Linked DNA regions of Homo sapiens. The protein of the gene in region 1 purifies or fractionates together with the protein of each later gene. This does not show direct contact. Each region holds a gene or a part of one and is shown on either strand. Other genes may lie near its edges. The genes, in order: FAT3 and HPRT1.

Region 1 (3,828 bases):
ATATTATCATTAACAAAAAGGTTATAATAATATGTGCCTTGCTAACCTTGGATATGAAAGGGTTTTATAAACCATACAATTTGTAATATTTTAATATGTTAAACTCCTGTAGGGATTTTTTTTTTTTTCAGTTTGCAGCCAATAACTAGAACTACATTAAAACCAGAGAGGAGATAACCAAAAAGATATGCTGGGGGCAGGGATGGGTTGTACTTTTTAAAATCAATGACATATGTTGACTATTTCATTAGAATTAAATTATGTCATATATGCTTCTAGGATCCTTAATTATTTCATTCTTGCTTGCAGGTAATTTTGAGAGAGTGATTGTGTGATGGGGAAAAGCATGGATTTTAGAGAAAGATTAAGGTCTGAGATCCTGCTTTACTACTTGCCGGCTGGGGAACATTGTTTGGGCAAATGTCTCAACTAAATAGATTAACTTCTCTGACCCTCAGTTTTCTAATATGTCATTGGGTAAAATAGTACCTATTACTTAGGATTATCATGAAGATTAAATACAACAAAGTGGAAAAATGACTGACACAGTGCCTACATCATTACATGCCTGCAAAGAAATTCATTTTCCATCTCCTCTCATCTTCACGTTCCCTGTAAAGGAAGAAAAGGAGAATGTCAAGGGCTTGCAGAGTATAAGACTGGATGGAAGAACTCATATTTGGGGGTTCTAAAAATCTGATCCTTTGGGTATGAATAGACTTAACTTTTTCTTGTTGAATACCTCCTTTCTCCCTTCTCCTTGATTGATTTTACTGGCTAAAATAGGAAAAAGTTTGTATCTTTTAACCCACATAGTCATGAAACTGTAGAAACTGTCCAAATTTAATAGTCATTGATGAAAGTAATTGGAAGTATCTCTTGTAATTTCTAAAGTTTTTCTTGCAAGTAATCACTCTTACCTCCCTTGTTCTGAATAGTTCTGGATATCACTCCAGTCATATAACTCCTTAGGGATTATTGTCTCTGCTTTGTAACTTGACACTTTGTTCATTCTCATGGCATTGCATTATTCATAAACCTTGATCAGTTTAAAAGTAAGCACAATAAAAGATGGTAATACCTTGAAGCATTTTAAAAAGATTATAATTATAAAAGTAATTATGTAACTATTGATGAACAATGTTCATTGAAGAAAAGTTAGAAAATGCAAATATGCCACCAAATCCCAAAACACAGTTAATCCTTTTTAAATATAAAAATTCATTTGCACATATAGGTGTTTATATAATAATAGAACTCATGCTATATATACTGTTTGATGACCTTTTTTCCTTAGCATTACATCTTACTGCATCTGAAAATGCACATCTTTTATGTCTCTATTTTTAATGACTGCATAATATTTTATTTTATGAATACACCATGAATTATTCAGTCCTCTATTGATAGGCATTTAGCATCTCTTCATTTTTTTTTTACTTTAAACTGTGCTATAACAGATAATTGTCTAAATGTTTCTATAGGATAATTACTGCAAAGGCAGTTCTAAGTCAAAGGTAAATGCACTTAAGGCTTCCAATATATCTCTAAATTGACCTTCAGAATGTAAGAAATCTTGTACCAATGAACAACGCTGTCAGTAGTATAAAAGTGTTATTTAAAACAAAGTGTCACTTGAAAACAATTCTTACAAGATTGGGCTAAATTCTAGTAATCTTAAGTTCCTTATTACCTAGTAGTGGCAAGGTTTCTAATTTTTTCTTATATTGCTGTTTTAGTAAAAAGATTTTGTGATAAAGTTTTAAAAAGCATGGCTTCCTAATAGTTATTTCCCACTCTCCCCCTTCTTCTAGGATGGTTAATTTATCTTTTCTCTCTCTCTTTCTTCCCTCCAGGATGGAAGTATGATGTGATGGATATAATTATGGGACACTGTGTGGGCACACGGCCTCCTGCTTGTTGCCTCATCCTCCTGCTTTTCAAGCTTTTGGCCACTGTCTCCCAGGGGCTGCCAGGGACTGGACCCCTGGGCTTCCACTTCACACATTCCATTTATAATGCTACCGTGTATGAGAACTCAGCAGCAAGGACCTACGTCAACAGCCAGAGTAGAATGGGCATCACCTTAATAGATCTATCCTGGGATATCAAATACAGAATAGTGTCCGGAGACGAGGAAGGCTTTTTCAAAGCAGAGGAAGTCATCATTGCAGATTTCTGTTTTCTCAGAATAAGAACTAAAGGTGGCAATTCTGCCATATTAAATAGGGAAATCCAGGATAATTATTTATTGATAGTAAAAGGTTCTGTCAGAGGAGAGGATTTGGAAGCATGGACCAAAGTGAATATACAGGTTTTAGATATGAATGATCTGAGACCTTTGTTTTCACCCACAACATACTCTGTTACCATAGCAGAAAGCACACCTCTAAGGACTAGTGTTGCCCAGGTGACTGCAACAGACGCAGATATTGGTTCCAATGGAGAATTCTACTACTACTTTAAAAATAAAGTTGATCTCTTTTCAGTTCACCCCACGAGTGGTGTCATCTCCTTAAGTGGTCGATTAAATTATGATGAAAAGAATAGGTATGATCTGGAAATTTTGGCTGTGGACCGGGGAATGAAACTGTATGGGAACAATGGAGTGAGCAGTACTGCAAAGCTTTATGTTCACATTGAGCGCATAAATGAACATGCCCCAACAATCCATGTAGTCACTCATGTTCCTTTCTCGTTGGAAAAAGAGCCAACATATGCAGTGGTGACAGTTGATGACTTAGATGATGGAGCGAATGGAGAGATCGAATCTGTTTCCATTGTGGCTGGGGATCCTTTAGATCAGTTCTTCCTGGCTAAGGAAGGAAAGTGGTTGAATGAGTACAAGATTAAGGAGAGGAAGCAGATTGACTGGGAGAGCTTTCCCTATGGCTACAATCTCACTCTTCAAGCAAAAGACAAGGGATCTCCTCAAAAATGTTCAGCATTAAAGGCAGTCTACATTGGCAACCCCACAAGAGACACTGTCCCCATTAGATTTGAAAAAGAAGTGTACGATGTGAGCATAAGTGAATTTTCCCCTCCTGGTGTCGTGGTTGCTATAGTAAAATTAAGTCCTGAACCGATAGATGTGGAATACAAATTATCTCCTGGTGAGGATGCAGTGTACTTTAAAATTAATCCTCGGTCGGGTCTGATTGTTACAGCACGGCCACTGAATACTGTTAAGAAGGAGGTTTATAAACTGGAGGTGACAAACAAGGAAGGAGATTTAAAAGCACAGGTCACCATCAGCATAGAAGATGCAAATGACCACACCCCAGAATTTCAGCAACCACTGTATGATGCTTATGTGAATGAAAGTGTCCCAGTGGGAACCAGCGTTCTAACAGTTTCAGCTTCTGATAAGGATAAAGGAGAAAATGGGTACATCACCTATAGTATCGCTAGCCTGAATTTGTTACCATTTGTCATTAATCAGTTTACAGGTGTTATTAGCACAACTGAAGAACTGGATTTTGAATCCTCCCCAGAAATTTACAGATTCATTGTTAGAGCCTCTGACTGGGGTTCACCATACCGCCATGAAAGTGAGGTCAATGTGACTATTCGAATAGGAAATGTCAACGACAACAGCCCTCTCTTTGAAAAAGTGGCTTGCCAGGGAGTTATTTCATATGACTTTCCAGTTGGTGGTCACATCACAGCAGTCTCAGCGATCGATATCGATGAACTTGAACTTGTAAAGTACAAAATCATTTCTGGAAATGAACTTGGCTTCTTTTATTTAAACCCAGATTCTGGTGTTTTACAGCTTAAAAAATCACTGACAAATTCTGGCATTAAAAATGGCAATTTTGCCCTCAG
Region 2 (3,828 bases), on another chromosome or scaffold:
TTTAGCAGATGCATCAGCATTTAATCCTAGAGGATCTGGCATAATCTTTTCCCCCAAGAATAGAAATTTTTTCTGCTTATGAAAGTAGTACATGTTTCTTTAAAAACAAATCAATATTGACTTCTGCCTGCTGTATAGCACTATGCCTCCACCTGGCCATGACCAGGGGCATGTCCTGGTCCACCTACCTGAAAATGTTTGCAACCAGCCTCCTGGCCATGTGCACAGGGGCTGAAGTTGTCCCACAGGTATTACGGGCCAACCTGACAATACATGAAGTTCCACCAAAGTCTGAGAACTCAGAACTGAGCTTTGGGGACTGAAAGACAGCACAAACCTCAAATTTCTCAGCACTGGAAACCTCAAAATATAACTGAATTCCATAAATAAGATTTTAAGTCTTAAATATGTATTTTTAAATGTATTAAAAGTCAAGCTGCTTGTATTTAAGCACCTAATACAATGCTTAGGTTGTAAAAGGAGATGCTCAATAGGTACTAACTGATATATTGAGATTTAATTATGGTTTGACCAATATTTATTGGAAACCGCCAAAGCTTAAATCATCAGCTTCTTGAATGTGATTTGAAAGGTAATTTAGTATTGAATAGCATGTGAGCTAGAGTATTTCATTCTTTCTGGTTTATTTCTTCAAATAGACTTTGAATATAATGGTGAATGGGTATTATAAATTAACTAATAAAAATGACATTGAAAATGAAAAAATATATATATTAAAGTGTAGAAAGTGACCAGGCGTGGTGGCTCACACCTGTAATCCAAGCACCTTGGGAGGCTGAGGCAGGAGGATCTCTTGATCCCAGGAGTTCAAGACCAGCCTGGGCAACATAGCGAGACTTCGTCTCTAAAAAAAAAAAAGAGAGAGAAAAAAATTTTTTTTATTTAAAAAAAGTGTAGAAAGTGTCAAGACCCCACTTCTTACCATTATTTGGTATATTTCTCTATACCCACCCACCCTTCCTCCTTACTCCCTCCCTCCCTTCCCAATCTTTTTATCTTTTTGTATTCTGATTTTTTGTTTGTATATTTTGCTTTAATTTAATGTATCCTTTAAAAATTTCCCATACATTTTATATGTATATATAAAAACGCATGCTGCCAAAGATAATTTATAAGAAAGACCATTGAATTTTTTTAAAAGTGATATATATTCATTGAAAAAAATTTAGAATATATAGCAAAGCAATAAAGAACTAAATAAAATTGCTGTAACTCCTCTTTCAAAGATAAGTGCTTTTATGATTTTGTTGTATTTTTTTCTGTATATAGGTACATATATAGTATTTATAAAGCTGTACTCATAGTACATTTTCACATCACAGGTACCATATCAGTGTTATTAAATATTTTGTATGCCAGGGGCTAGACATACCAAGACAACCAATATGTGGTTCTACTTAAATAATATTAGAGTATCTTTTATGATGACACTTCATGAGTTGACTATAATAATCTTAGACTTCTAAGAGTTTGGGTTTTCAAAAGATCACTTAGCTTTTTTGGGTGATTTTTCCCCCTTACTGTGAGATGAGAGAGGCTGTTTGGATTTGGGATTGGGGTAGCGGGGACAGCAACTTTTCTTTTCTTTTTCTTTTTTATTTTGAGGTAGGGTATTGCTGTGTCACCCAGGCTGGAGTGCAGTGGTGTGATCTCGGCTCACTGCAACCTCCACCTCCCGGGCTCAGGTGATCCTCCTGCTTCAGCCTCCCCAGTAACTGGGACTACAGGCGCGTGCCACATGCCTGGCTAATTTTGTATTTTTAGTAGAGATGGGGTTTCACCATGTTGGCCAGGCTGGTCTCTAACTCCTGACCTCAGGTGATACGCCCACCTGGGCCTCCCAAAATACTGGGATTACAGGCATGAGCCGCTGCATCAGCCAGCAGTTTTTCTTGTGGTTTTTTTTGTTTGTTTTGTTTTGTTTTGTTTTTGAGATAGGGTCTTACTCTGTTGTCCACGCTGGAGTGCTGTGGTATGATCGTAGCTCACTGCAGCCTCAAACTCCTGGGCTCAAGTGATTCCTTCTGCCTCCGCCTCCCGAGTAGCTGGGACTACAGGTATGCACCACCATACCTGGCAAATTTTTACAAAGTTTTTTGTAGGGACGGGGTCTTGCTACATTCCCCATGTCGGTCTTGAACTCCTGGCCTCAAGCAACTCTCCTGTCTCAGCCTCCCAAAGCACTGGGATTACAAGTGTGAGCCACCACACCATGCCAGTTTTTCCTGTTCAGTGTGATATTTTATCTTGTTAGACTACAGTGTGTTAAAACTTGTTTTACTAAATTTTCAAACATACTCAAAAGTGGAGAGAATAGTATAATGAATACCCGTATGTTCATCACCCATGTTTAGAATATTATTAAATATAAAGATTTTGCTGCGTTTGTCTTAGCTCTTTAAAATTTTTCTTTTTCTCTTTGTGACCTAAAGGAAATTCCATATCTTATCACTTTACTTCTACATTCTTGACTAAGATGACTAAGACATATAGTTACATGGTTTTTTGTTTTGTTTTTTGTTTTTTAAAGACGAAATCTCGCTCTTGTCCCCCAGGCTGGAGTGCAATGGTGCCATCTCAGCTCAGTGCAACCTCTGCCTTCTGGGTACAAGCGATTCTCCTGCCTCAGCCTCCCAAGTAGCTGGGATTACAGGCTCCTGCCACCACGCCTGGCTAATTTTTGTATTTTTAGTAGAGACGGCGGGGGGAGGTTTCACCATGTTGACAAGGCTGGTCTGGAACTCCTGACCTCAGGTGATCCACCCGCCTCGGCCTCCCAAAGTGCTGGGATTACAGGCGTGAGCCACCGCGCCCAGCCTGTTTTTTTGTTTGTTTGTTTTGTTTTTTTTGAGACAGAGTCTTGCTCTGTTTCCCAGGCTGGAGTGAAGTGGCGCATTCTTGGCTCACTGCAACCTTCACCTCCCAGGTTCAAGTGATTCTCCTGCCTCAGCCTCCCAAGTAGCTGGGACTACAGGCATGTGTCACCACACCCGGCTAATTTTTTTGTATTTTTAGTAGAGACGGGATTTCACCGTGTTGCCCAGGCTGGTCTCGAACTCCTGAGCTCAGGCAGTCTGCCTGCCTCAGCCTCCCAAAGTGCTGGGATTACACGTGTGAACCAACCCGCCCGGCCTGTTGTTTTCTTACATAATTCATTATCATACCTACAAAGTTAACAGTTACTAATATCATCTTACACCTAAATTTCTCTGATAGACTAAGGTTATTTTTTAACATCTTAATCCAATCAAATGTTTGTATCCTGTAATGCTCTCATTGAAACAGCTATATTTCTTTTTCAGATTAGTGATGATGAACCAGGTTATGACCTTGATTTATTTTGCATACCTAATCATTATGCTGAGGATTTGGAAAGGGTGTTTATTCCTCATGGACTAATTATGGACAGGTAAGTAAGATCTTAAAATGAGGTTTTTTACTTTTTCTTGTGTTAATTTCAAACATCAGCAGCTGTTCTGAGTACTTGCTATTTGAACATAAACTAGGCCAACTTATTAAATAACTGATGCTTTCTAAAATCTTCTTTATTAAAAATAAAAGAGGAGGGCCTTACTAATTACTTAGTATCAGTTGTGGTATAGTGGGACTCTGTAGGGACCAGAACAAAGTAAACATTGAAGGGAGATGGAAGAAGGAACTCTAGCCAGAGTCTTGCATTTCTCAGTCCTAAACAGGGTAATGGACTGGGGCTGAATCACATGAAGGCAAGGTCAGATTTTTATTATTATGCACATCTAGCTTGAAAATTTTCTGTTAAGTCAATTACAGTGAAAAACCTTACCTGGT

What was found.
Region 2: the proteins of FAT3 (region 1) and HPRT1 fractionate together in Homo sapiens (co-fractionation; one large-scale study listed by BioGRID). This does not show direct contact.

The regions. Positions count from the first base shown.
Region 1 is NC_000011.10:92,350,240-92,354,067, forward strand, and holds part of FAT3 (protocadherin Fat 3 isoform 1 precursor), read left to right. Parts: intron 1-1,856; 5' UTR 1,857-1,873; coding exon 1,874-3,828.
Region 2 is NC_000023.11:134,470,036-134,473,863, forward strand, and holds part of HPRT1 (hypoxanthine-guanine phosphoribosyltransferase), read left to right. Parts: intron 1-3,323; coding exon 3,324-3,430; intron 3,431-3,828. UniProt on the Homo sapiens protein: Converts guanine to guanosine monophosphate, and hypoxanthine to inosine monophosphate. Transfers the 5-phosphoribosyl group from 5-phosphoribosylpyrophosphate onto the purine.